Regions from separate parts of the Homo sapiens genome. Here region 1 is linked to region 2. Evidence: fine-mapped QTL for protein levels in blood plasma. A gene starts in region 2. The other region holds a variant in brackets. All regions are shown on one strand. Distances are from middle to middle. Region 1 overlaps FAM13A (family with sequence similarity 13 member A). Region 2 holds the start of FAM13A (family with sequence similarity 13 member A).

What was found. PIP is the chance, under the fine-mapping model, that this variant and not a neighbour inherited with it causes the effect. The UK Biobank Pharma Proteomics Project read protein levels with antibody pairs (Olink). The fine-mapping took linkage between variants from a reference panel, not from the people measured, so its PIPs are less certain.
Region 1: its variant is fine-mapped to the plasma level of the FAM13A protein (UK Biobank, PIP above 0.99).

What each region holds. Positions count from the first base shown.
Region 1 is chr4:88,908,064-88,913,449 of GRCh38, reverse strand. All of the region lies in intron 5 of FAM13A (family with sequence similarity 13 member A), which reads left to right. Among named protein-coding and RNA genes, the nearest start is that of FAM13A, 150 kb to the left of the region's middle. The variant T/A (reference allele first, on the strand shown) is at 2,903.
Region 2 is chr4:89,054,499-89,059,884 of GRCh38, reverse strand. It overlaps FAM13A (family with sequence similarity 13 member A), which reads left to right and starts at 2,700. Exons shown (of 24, transcript NM_014883.4): 1 at 2,700-2,947. The coding sequence starts at 2,921. RefSeq lists an enhancer at 2,837-3,399.

The DNA.
Region 1 (5,386 bases), 150 kb after region 2:
CCTCCTCTTCTTCCCTCTTCCCTCTACTACTACTTCTACTACTTCTTCTTCTTTGTCTTCCTCCTCCTCCTCCTCTTCTTCCTCTTCTCTTCTTCCTCCTCTTCTTCCTCTTCTTCTTCTTCCTCCTCCTCTTCTTCCTCTTCCTCTTCCTCCTGTTCTTCTTCCTCTTCCTCTTCCTCCTCCACTTCTTCCTCTTCTTCTTCCTCCTCCTCCTCTTCTTCCTCTTCCTCTTCCTCCTGTTCTTCTTCCTCTTCCTCTTCCTCCTCCACTTCTTCCTCTTCTTCTTCCTCCTCCTCCTCTTCTTCCTCTTCCTCTTCCTCCTGTTCTTCTTCCTCTTCCTCTTCCTCCTCCTCCTCTTCTTCTTCTTCCTCCTCCTCTTGTTCCTTCTCTCTACTACTACTTCTACTACTTCTTCTTCTTCTTCTTCCTCCTCCTCCTCCTCTTCTTCCTTCTTTCTTCTTCTTTCTTCTTTCTTCTGTCTTGCTCTGTCACCCTGGCTGGAGTGCAGTGGTGTGATCACAGCTCACTGCAGGCTGGACCTCTTGGGCTCAATAGGTCCTCCTGCCTCAGCCTCCTGAGTATCTAGGACCACAGGAATGTGCCACCATGCCTGCCTAATTTTATTTTGTTGTTTTTGTAGAGACAGAGTCTCACTAGGTTGCCCAGGCTTAGACTTCTCTTTAGTAGAGGATTCAGAAAATAAACCAATAACCAATAGATATGTAACTGTAACTTTGTTGTATAGAGGAGGAGCAGCAGCCAACTGTATGGAGTTGGTCTGGGTGAGTAGGAAAATGTTTTCCTCCTGTATATGTTCAAGGTTTTCCAGAGAAAACCAATAGGAGGTGTGTGTGTGTGTGTGTGTGTGTGTGTGTGTGTGTATGTATGTGTGTAAAGAGAGAGGTGATTTATTATGGGGTTTGGCTCACATGATTTTGGAGGCTGAAGAGCTCTATAATATGCTGTTTGCAAGCTCTGGTGAATCAGGGAAGCTGGTAGCATGGCTCAGTCTAAATCCGAAGTCTTGAGTGGCTGGGAAGCTGATGGTGCAAGTCCAAAGTCCAAAGGCTGCAGAACCTGGAGTTTTAATGTCCAAGAGCAGGGGAAGATGGGTGCCCCAGCTCTAGGAGAGACATCAAATTCACCTTTCCTCTGCCTTTTTGTTCTCTATATGTCCTCAGCCAATTGGATGGTGCCTGCAACATTTGGTGAGAGTGGATCTTCCTTACTCAGCCCATTGATTCAAATACCAGCCTCTTCCAGAACACCCTCACAGACATACCCAGAAATAATGTTTTGCCAACTCTTTGGACATCTCTTCATTTAGTCAAGTTGACACCTAAATTTAACCATCAAAAGCCACCTACCAGTGATGTCATGGAAGCTAAGAGAAGACAGTAATTCAAGAATAGTTACCTTCTTTAAATGTTACTAAGAACAAGAGTAAGACGGAGGCTGAGCTGTGACTGTTTTGGCAGATTCTGTGAAATAGTGAGACAAAGACCACATCTTAGGGCATTGAAGAATGAATTGGAGGTGAGGAAGTAGAGAAAGTGAGTGAAGATGGCTGTTTTAAAGGAATTTGCTATGAAGGGAAGCAAGTAGGACCATAGCTAATGGGAGATGTAGGATTAAGGAAGTATCTTTTAAAAATAAACAAACAAAAATGAGAAGATATGACTGCAGAGCATGCTTGTGATTGATGGGAATGGTCACAGTGGGGAAGGGAGTGACAGGAGACCGTTGAAGGAGCAGCCTTTGGGGAGATGAAAGGAGATGAGATCCACTGTGCATATGGAGGGAATTGCTCTTTGATACAACCAGTCTTATCTCTCATTGCAACAACAGGGAAGGCAGAGAGGATTGAATGATTTCAGCTAGGTTTGTAGATTTGATGGTGTGGCAATGACTAGCTTCTGCTCCGATGTTTCTGTTTTTCCAAAGAGGTATTAAGCAAGAATGGAAAGAAAGGGGTTTGAGAAGAGAGGGAAAGACAAGAAATATCATCTTGGAAAGTGGAAAATCAAGTTACGCAAGAAGTATAGCAGAATTGCTGTACATGAGGGAGGGCCCATCCAAAGTTTTTGGTCATAAATTTAATGTGAAACCAATCAACCAATTCTGTAACTTTTTCCAGCCACTTTGAGCTGCTCCGTTCTCAGCACAGAGAAAGCATATAGCTGGATTCATCCAACATTGTACTTTTGTGAGGTGAATGCAATGATTGGAGACTGGAGGAAAGAAATTAAGGGTATTAGCAAGAGAACGAAGGATCATAAAGGGAATTTAAGAAGGGAATTAAGAAGGGACTAAAAGCAGGAGGAATGCACAAGGGGCTTGGAAGGGGATTTTATTCATTCAGTTTACTCAGTCACTCAACAATTGAGCTCCTACTATGTGCCAAACCTAGTTGTAGGCTCTGTGGATATAATGTATTTATGAAGAAGACTGACCAAGTCCTCTCACAGAGTAGGGTGAGATGGACAATAAAGAATTAAAAGCAGCTGGGCGTGGTGGCTCACGCCTGTAATCCCAGCACTTTGGGAGGCTGAGGCGGGCAGATCACGAGGTCAAGAGATTGAGACCATCCTGGCCAACGTGGTGAAACCCCGTCTCTACTAAAAATACAGAAATTAGCTGGGCATGGTGACGCGTGCCTGTAGTCCCAGCTACTCAGGAGGCTGAGGCAGGAGAATCGCTTGAACCCAGGAGGCAGAAGTTGCAGTGAGCTGAGATGGCACCACTGCACTCCAACCTGGTGACAGAGCGAGACTCCATCTCAAAAAAAAAAAAAAGAATTAAAACCAGTAAGTTTAAGGTTGGATATTTCTAAGGGCTATGGGGAAACATAAAATAGGGTAGGGGATAGAGAGAAACAAGTGGAAGAGGAGGGAGGTAGTGA[T/A]TAATATCCCTTCCCAGGTGGCATCCTGGGAAGATAACCTGCTCCAGTGAAATTGAGCAAAGACCTGAATGAAACAAGGGACCAAACCTTAAAAGAGCTGTGGAAGTAGTGTGCAAGGCTGAGGGGACAGTGAGTGCTTTCCTATTTTTAAATGTCATTAGTAGTTGAATAGTAAGGCAAAAGAAACCATGATAAGGTATTTTTTTCCTTCCTTATTGTATTTTTAACTGGTGTTCTCATGATACCATGACACAGCTGGTTTAAGCAAGTAGGTGTTGTGCAAAGGTCATTAAAGTAAGCAATTGGTTCAGTCAAAAGTCTCATGTAAGTAGATCAAATGTTTAAAATAAGTATAAATATGCCGTATGTGATCTATTAATGTCCAGTTTGACACTTCGTTCTCCAGTGCCCAGCATTGGAATAACACCCATTCCAACTAGTAATAAGATTCAGTTGATATTTGTTGAATAAATTTTCATGCCTACATACAATTTAACACTTAGAAACACAACATCCCCCTCCAAACTTTTTCTAAAAAGTTCTTCTAAAGGAAGAGTTTGAACACAAACCCGAGGTCTCTTACCTTGAGAATGTGGGAACGTTCTTTACATGGCTTTGTAAAAAATTTAGATATAATTCACATACCATTGAAATTCACTCTTATAAAGTATACAATCTATGGCTTTGTGTGTGTTCACAAAACTGTGCAATCATCACCATTACCTAATTCCAGAATATTTTTATCACCCTAAAAAGAAACCTCAGCTGGGTACGGTGGCTCACTTCTGTAATCCCAGCACTTTGGGAGGCCAGGGTGGGCGGATCACAAGGTCAAGAGATAGAGACCATCCTGGCCAACATGGAGAAACCTCATCTCTACTAAAAATACAAAAATTAGCTGGGCATGGTGGTGCACACCTGTAGTCCCAGCTACTCCAGAGGCTGAGACAGGAGAATCGCTTGAACCTGGGAGGCGGAGGTTGCAGTGAGCCAAGATCACGCCACTGCACTCCAGCCTGGCAACAGAGCGAGACTCCATCTCAAAAAAAAAAAATAAAAAACCTCATGTACATCAGACCCATTAGCAGTCACTCCACATTCCCCACTCCTCCCAACCCCTGGCAATAACCAATCTACTTTCTGTCACTAAGTATTTGCCTATTCTGGACATTTCATATAAGTGGAATCACACAATATATATCCTTTTGTGTCTGTATTATTTCACTTAGCATGTTTTCAAGGTTCATTCATGTTGTAGCAGGTGTCAGTACTTTATTCCTTTTTATAGCCGAAGAATATTCTATTATGTGACTATACCATGTCTTGTTTATCCATTCATCAATTAATGGGCATTTGGATTGTCACCACTTTTAGGCTATTATGAATAATTCTACTATTTGCATTTGTGTTGATATTTTTGCTGTGGACATAAATTTTCAACTTTCTCAGATACATATGTACAAATATAAATGGCTTTATAAAGATTTAGAAAATGTTTTATCTTACTATTTCATACTTAACTGCATAATATATATTTTAAAAGAATACATTAAGTTATCACCAGTTATTTGCTTAGGTTACTAGTTGAATTATTTAACTTTTCTCCAGAAATCTAAGTACCATGGGCCTTATAGGAAGGTGTTACCTGTGTCCTGTGGCTCTGCAGCCCCCTTGCTCGCTGCTTGCTGCAAGGGTGGGAGCTGCTGTTTCAGTACCATTCTGATGGGGCACTGGGAACGCAACTCTGAACGGGTGCTGGCTTGTCTTTTCATCAATAAATACTACTTCTTCCTTGAGCTAGATCTCTTATCTGCCAGTTCATTCTCAGACTGCTAAACTTTACTTTGTCTGTATTGTCTAAGTTTAAAGTCATAAAACAAAAAGTAAATATAATTCATGTAGGTGACATTTGCAAATAGAAGTTTAGAAAAAATGCTTTCAGAGTCTTATAGGAAAAAGTTGACTGTCAGCCTTGTGCCCATTAATTCACAGAGACAGGGCTGGAAAATAGAATAAAGAAATACTGTCACTTCTGTTTTTTGCATAAGGAAGAAAGAATTATAGGCATTTGTAAACACTCAGACAGTCATAGACAACAGTCAGACATTTCTACTAATTTCCCTTAACAGTCAGCCTTGTTTCTTTTCATCATATTCTAGCATTTACATACCAGTAGTTTTAAAAAACAGGTACAAGCATAAAGCATAATTGTGTTATCCAAGCATAGTCAAATTATGCAATGTATTATGCAGTTGGCTCTCCTAAATGTCATGCTGGATATAGTTTATCCCTCTCACAGTGAGTCAGAAGCGGGAATGGGTTCATTCACTATTTCCAGAAAGCAGCTTACCACCAGCAGGTGCTGTAACTAGTGGGAAAGGGTAAGACTGGAATGCACACTTATTTAGGGATCTCTGAAATGTACCCTTTGGTACTTACATAAGGGCTATGTGAGGCCACAGGCAGCTGAGAGTGTTGGCAGTA
Region 2 (5,386 bases):
CATATTGAATGGGCAAAAGCTGGAAGCATTCCCTTTGAAAACTGGTACAAGACAAGGATGCCCTCTCTCACCACTTGTATTCAACATAGTATTGGAAGTTCTGGCCAAGGCAATCAAACAAGAGAAAGAAATAAAGGGTATTCAAATAGGAAGAGAAGAAATCAAGTTATCTCTGTTTGCAGACGACTTGATTTTATATTTAGGAAGCCCCATCATCTCAGCCCCAAAACTTCTTGAACTGATAAGGAACTTCAGCAAGGTCTCAGGATACAAAATCAATGTATAAAAATCACAAGCATTCATTTACACCAACAATAGGCAAGCAGAGAGGCAAATCATGAATGAACTCCCATTCACAATCGCTACAAAGAGAATAAAATACATAGGTATACAGCTATCAAGGGATGTGAAGGACCTCTTCAAGGAGAACTACAAACCACTGCTCAAGGATATAAGAGAGAACACAAACAAATGGAAAAACATTCTATCCTCGTGGATAGGAAGAATCATGATCATGAAAATGGCCCTACTGCCCAAAGTAATCTATAGATTCAATGCTATTCCCATCAAACTACCATTGACATTCTTCACAGAATTAGAAAAACTATTTTAAATTTCATCCAGAATCAAAGAAGACCCCATATAGACAAGACAATCCTAAGCAAAAAGAACAAAGCAGGAGGCATCATGCTACCTGACTTCAAACTATACTACAAGGCTACAGTAACCAAAACAGCACAGTACTGGTACCAAAACAGACATACAGACCAATGGAGCAGAACGGAGACCTCAGAAATAACACCACATGTCTACAACAATCTAATCTTCGTCAAATCTGACAAAAAACAAGCAATGGGAAAATGATCTCCCATTCAGTAAATGGTCCTGGGAAAACTGGCTAGTTATATGCAAAAAACTGAAACTGGACCCCTTCCTTAGACCTTATACAAAAATTATCTCAAGATGGATTAAAGACTTAAATGTAAAACCCAAAACTATAAAAACCCTAGAAGAAAACCTAGGCAATACCATTCAGGGCATAGGCATGGGCAGAGACAAAAATGCCAAAAGCAATGGCAACAGAAGCCAAAATTGACAAATGGGATCTAATTAAACTAAAGAGCTTTTGCACAGCAAAAGAAACTATCATCAGAGTGAACAAGCAGCCTACAGAATGGGAGAAAATATTTGCAAACTATGCATCTGACAAAGGTCTCATATCCAGAATCCATAAGGAACTTAAACAAATTTACAGGAAAAAGACAAACTACCCCATCAAAAAGTGGGCAAAGGATATGAACAGACACTTCTCAAAAGAAGACATTTATGTAGCCAACAAACCTATGAAGAAAAGCTCACCATCACTGATCATCAGAGAAATGCAAATCAAAACCACAATGAGATACTATCTCGAGCCAGTTAGAATGGCAATTATTGAGAAGTCAGGAAACAACAGATGCTAGAGAGGATGTGGAGAAATAGGAACGCTTTTACACTGTCCGTGGGAATGTAATTAGTTCAACCATTGTGGAAGACAGTATGGAGATTCCTCAAGGATCTAGAACCAGAAATACCATTTGACCCAGCAGTCCCATTACTGGGTATATACCCAAAGGAGTATAAATCATTCTGCTATAAAGACACATACACACATATGTTTATCGCAGCACTGTTTACAATAGCAAAGACATGGAACCCACTCAAATGCCCATCAATGATAGACTGGATAAAGAAAATGTGGTACATATACACCATGGAATACTATGCAGCCATAATAAGGAACAAGATCATGTCTTTTGCATGGACATGTATGAAGCTAGAAGCCGTCATCCTCAGCAAACTACCACAGGAACAGAAAACCAGACACCACATGTTCTCACTCATAAGTGGGAGTTGAACATTGAGAACACATGGACACAAAGGGGAAACAACACACATCAGGGCCTGTTGGGAGGTTGGGGGTGAGGGGAGAGAACTTAGAGGATGGGTCAATAGGTACAGCAAAAGAAAAAAGAAAAACAAATTGACAGAAAAAATGGTAACAAAAATAAAAATAGGATAGTTTCCTTTTGGCTTACCTGAAGTGGCTATTTTAGCTATTAGTTCAAATATTTGTAAATTTTAAAATCTATCAAATTTTCTAGTGACAGCATGTGGAAGAGAAAGTTATTGAAAAGTCAGTTAGCTAATTTTTCAGACTGCAAATCACATATGTAGAATTATGGTTGTCTAGAAGTATGTTGTTTATGTTTATCATCAGTATATTTTTATAAGACAACTCATACATAATTAGAAGTAGTAACGGCTACATAAAATAGAGCATTTTCATTTAAAACAATTCTGATGGGGTAGCATGGAAGGAAGAAAATTTTGGTAGAATTTAGCTGGTTTCTAAGGAAGAGTAGAAGAGAAAACTGCCTCAGAAAAAATGAATAATGTGCCTGCAGTTTTAAACCTGAGTCTGAATACGTACATTTTGCTTAGAGCTGTGTGGAATCTGGGAAGCAAGTCTGTGTTTTCACTTTATGCACTGTTGGTTCTATTAATGAAAGCCACCAGGTGACTGGCAGTTTTCGGAGTCAAAGAAGCCTGTGTGTAGGATCTAGGGAGTCAGGTTTGAAAAAAAGATGTCAGCGACTTAAGACCCGTGTCACGTGACTCCCTCTACTTGCCAGCACTGAGGCTGTGGATCAAATTTCAACTCCAGGCAGTCCTTCCAGCCATGTGGGTTCAGCGGAAAGAGAAGCAAAACCACTCTTCCTAAAATGTTAGAAGCTGCTCTTCGCTTACCTTGGGGCCTTTGCATTGGGAGCTGTTTTTCACATCAAAGAATATGTGCTGAATGGAATTTTAGTATTTTGCTGTCGTTTTAATATTTTCGTCTGGTCTTCCTCAGTTCTTCCAGACGCTTTCTGAGAGAATGGGGGCAGGAGCTCTAGCCATCTGTGTAAGTATAGGCCTTCTTCTGTCTTCTGTGTTTACTGCCAGTTTTTAGGAGAGGGCCTTGCCTTCCTTGTTTTGATGAGATGTTTGTGTAACTTATTTTTCCTTCCCAGGAGGTGGGGAAAGATTTGTTACTTAAATTCCTATCTACTTAAATGGGTATTAGGCAGGATTTGGGATGGCATTCAGCATATTTGTGCACTTTAGTTTCCAAAAAAGGTGAAAGATGCATGCTGATTTATTCCGTTAAGTCAACTTGATTTAAAGTAGAGCACTTTCAAGCATTTTAGACTTTCTTGTCCCTGAATAGTTAAACATGAATGCTTCATTATAGCTATTAGAGAAATCTTGTGGCTAGCTTGAGGAGGAATTGAAGTAACCATTAATTTATTACTTTTGAGTATGTGTGTGACATTTTTCTGTTTTATATTTCTATTTTCGTTTAGTAATTCTGGAGTTTCTGTTTCAGCATGATTGCTGAAAGTGATGGTGGAGAAGCTCAGTTGATAAATGTTTGTGTATCCTTAAACTGTAGAAATGAATGGTTGTTATAACACAGTAGCATTAATAAATAACACTGAAATAAAATCCTTGGGAAAATGTGCATATTTCTGGAGTTTTAGAATTTTTAGAATTTATGAATTTCTAAATTATTCTGCTGGTGCTTGTACAAAACCTTTTGTAATAATCAAAAATTGTCAATTATATAATTTGCAGAATGCTGTAATTTAAATTTTGATTGTACTATATAGAAAATGCATATATCTGTATGAGAATTACACATATTTATGTTTCAAGTTGCTATTGTATTCCATAGGGACATTTTATTTTCTAGAATGTATTAAATGAGAAATATCTTCTTCCTTATTATCACCTTAACTGCTCACTTAAAAAATCACACTCAGGCCAGATCCTCTTTTTTTGTGTGTGTTTCAGAAAGAGCTGCAATTTGCTGTAGCTTCTGATGGCATTCTGAAGTGTTTAGAAATATCTGAGCAATTTTTGACACACAGACACCAAATGGTCACCAAATGGTCACCAAATGGTAGACCAGCCCTATAGATTAAGTTTTCTTAGTGAAACTGCAGGATGACCTTGTTTCCAGGCTCAAAACTTTTCAGCACCATGTATGTCACTCTGTCTTCCTTTTAACTCTGAGGCTTAGTAGCATCCAGGTATCCATGTGGTTATTCTTTTTTTATCACCCCAAAGAGTTTCCTTCAAAATCTGATTTATCTATGTGTAAAATACTGACTTTTACTTTACTGCAGAGGTGGCCCTTCTATTTTTCTAGCTTTATAAAAGAAACAATACAGAACTGAAAATGTGTAGAATGAGGCAGCAGATAGGTCATGAAGATTGGTAGTCATCTCTGATTGTCTGATTAGATCTTTACTTCTTTCCCTTGACCTGCAATATATTGATCTCTACCTTGACTGGAATGCACACTGACTCATGTATAAAACTTTATATTTTCCCTTAATTTATATCCAAAGCATGTATAAAATTTCAGTTAAAGTTGACATAAAAATCACACAGTGTAAGAGATTATTCACTCTGGTAGATGAGTAATTCTCAATCATTTCTACCCTTCTCCTTAAGGTTGGCCTTTGATTGTGCTGTCTTGGTTTTACTGTAGGAGGAAATACATTTTCAACAGTTGTACCATAGCATATCTGGAAAAAGATAGCTTTTGGAGAACAACAAAAAAAATTTTAAACATCGTGACAAAAAAGGGAGAACTAAGTCACACATTAATACATTCAATGAGCTGATACACTACTTTTTACTTTGTGTAGGAGTGAAGAGAAAGCTTTTCCTCTGCCCTTTCTGCAATTTTATTGAAACAATTGGCAATAGATTAATAGGAGAAAAAGAGTTACAAATTTATTAATATGTATATGGATATGAGAGCCCCTCAAATATGAGATTCAAAGAAGGGCCAGGTGGTTGAAGCTTAAATGCCTTCTTTTTGGGGAAGAGAGAAGTAGGGAGCTGCAGGTAATTTTAGAGAGGTAGTAAATAATTTTTAAAGTGAATGAATGGGTTCAAAGAGCATGGCCTGGGACAGCGTTTCCCTGAGCTATGGTGAGGTGGTGGAAAGGTGAGGGGTGGAATGAAGGTTGTGTTTTTATGCAGATAAAGTCTCCCAGCCAATCTCTTGGAGCTGTCCTCAGAAGAATAGATGAAAAGTCAGTGTGGATATGGTGACAGCTTTTAGTCTCTTTTCTGATGGTTAATTTTTCATGGTTATTTGATGAGATTCTCAGGAAGTAGATCTTAAGACAATTGCATTTCTTTTGGAAAGAAGCTTCCTTAATCAGATAAGGAAATTCCAGAGAGAGTCACTCTCAGTGCTTTAGGAAAGAAAAAGAGAGACTGAGGGAGGGCAGGAGAGTGGAAAGGCAGAGAGAGACCTTGGTTCTGAGGCTTATTTCTGAGA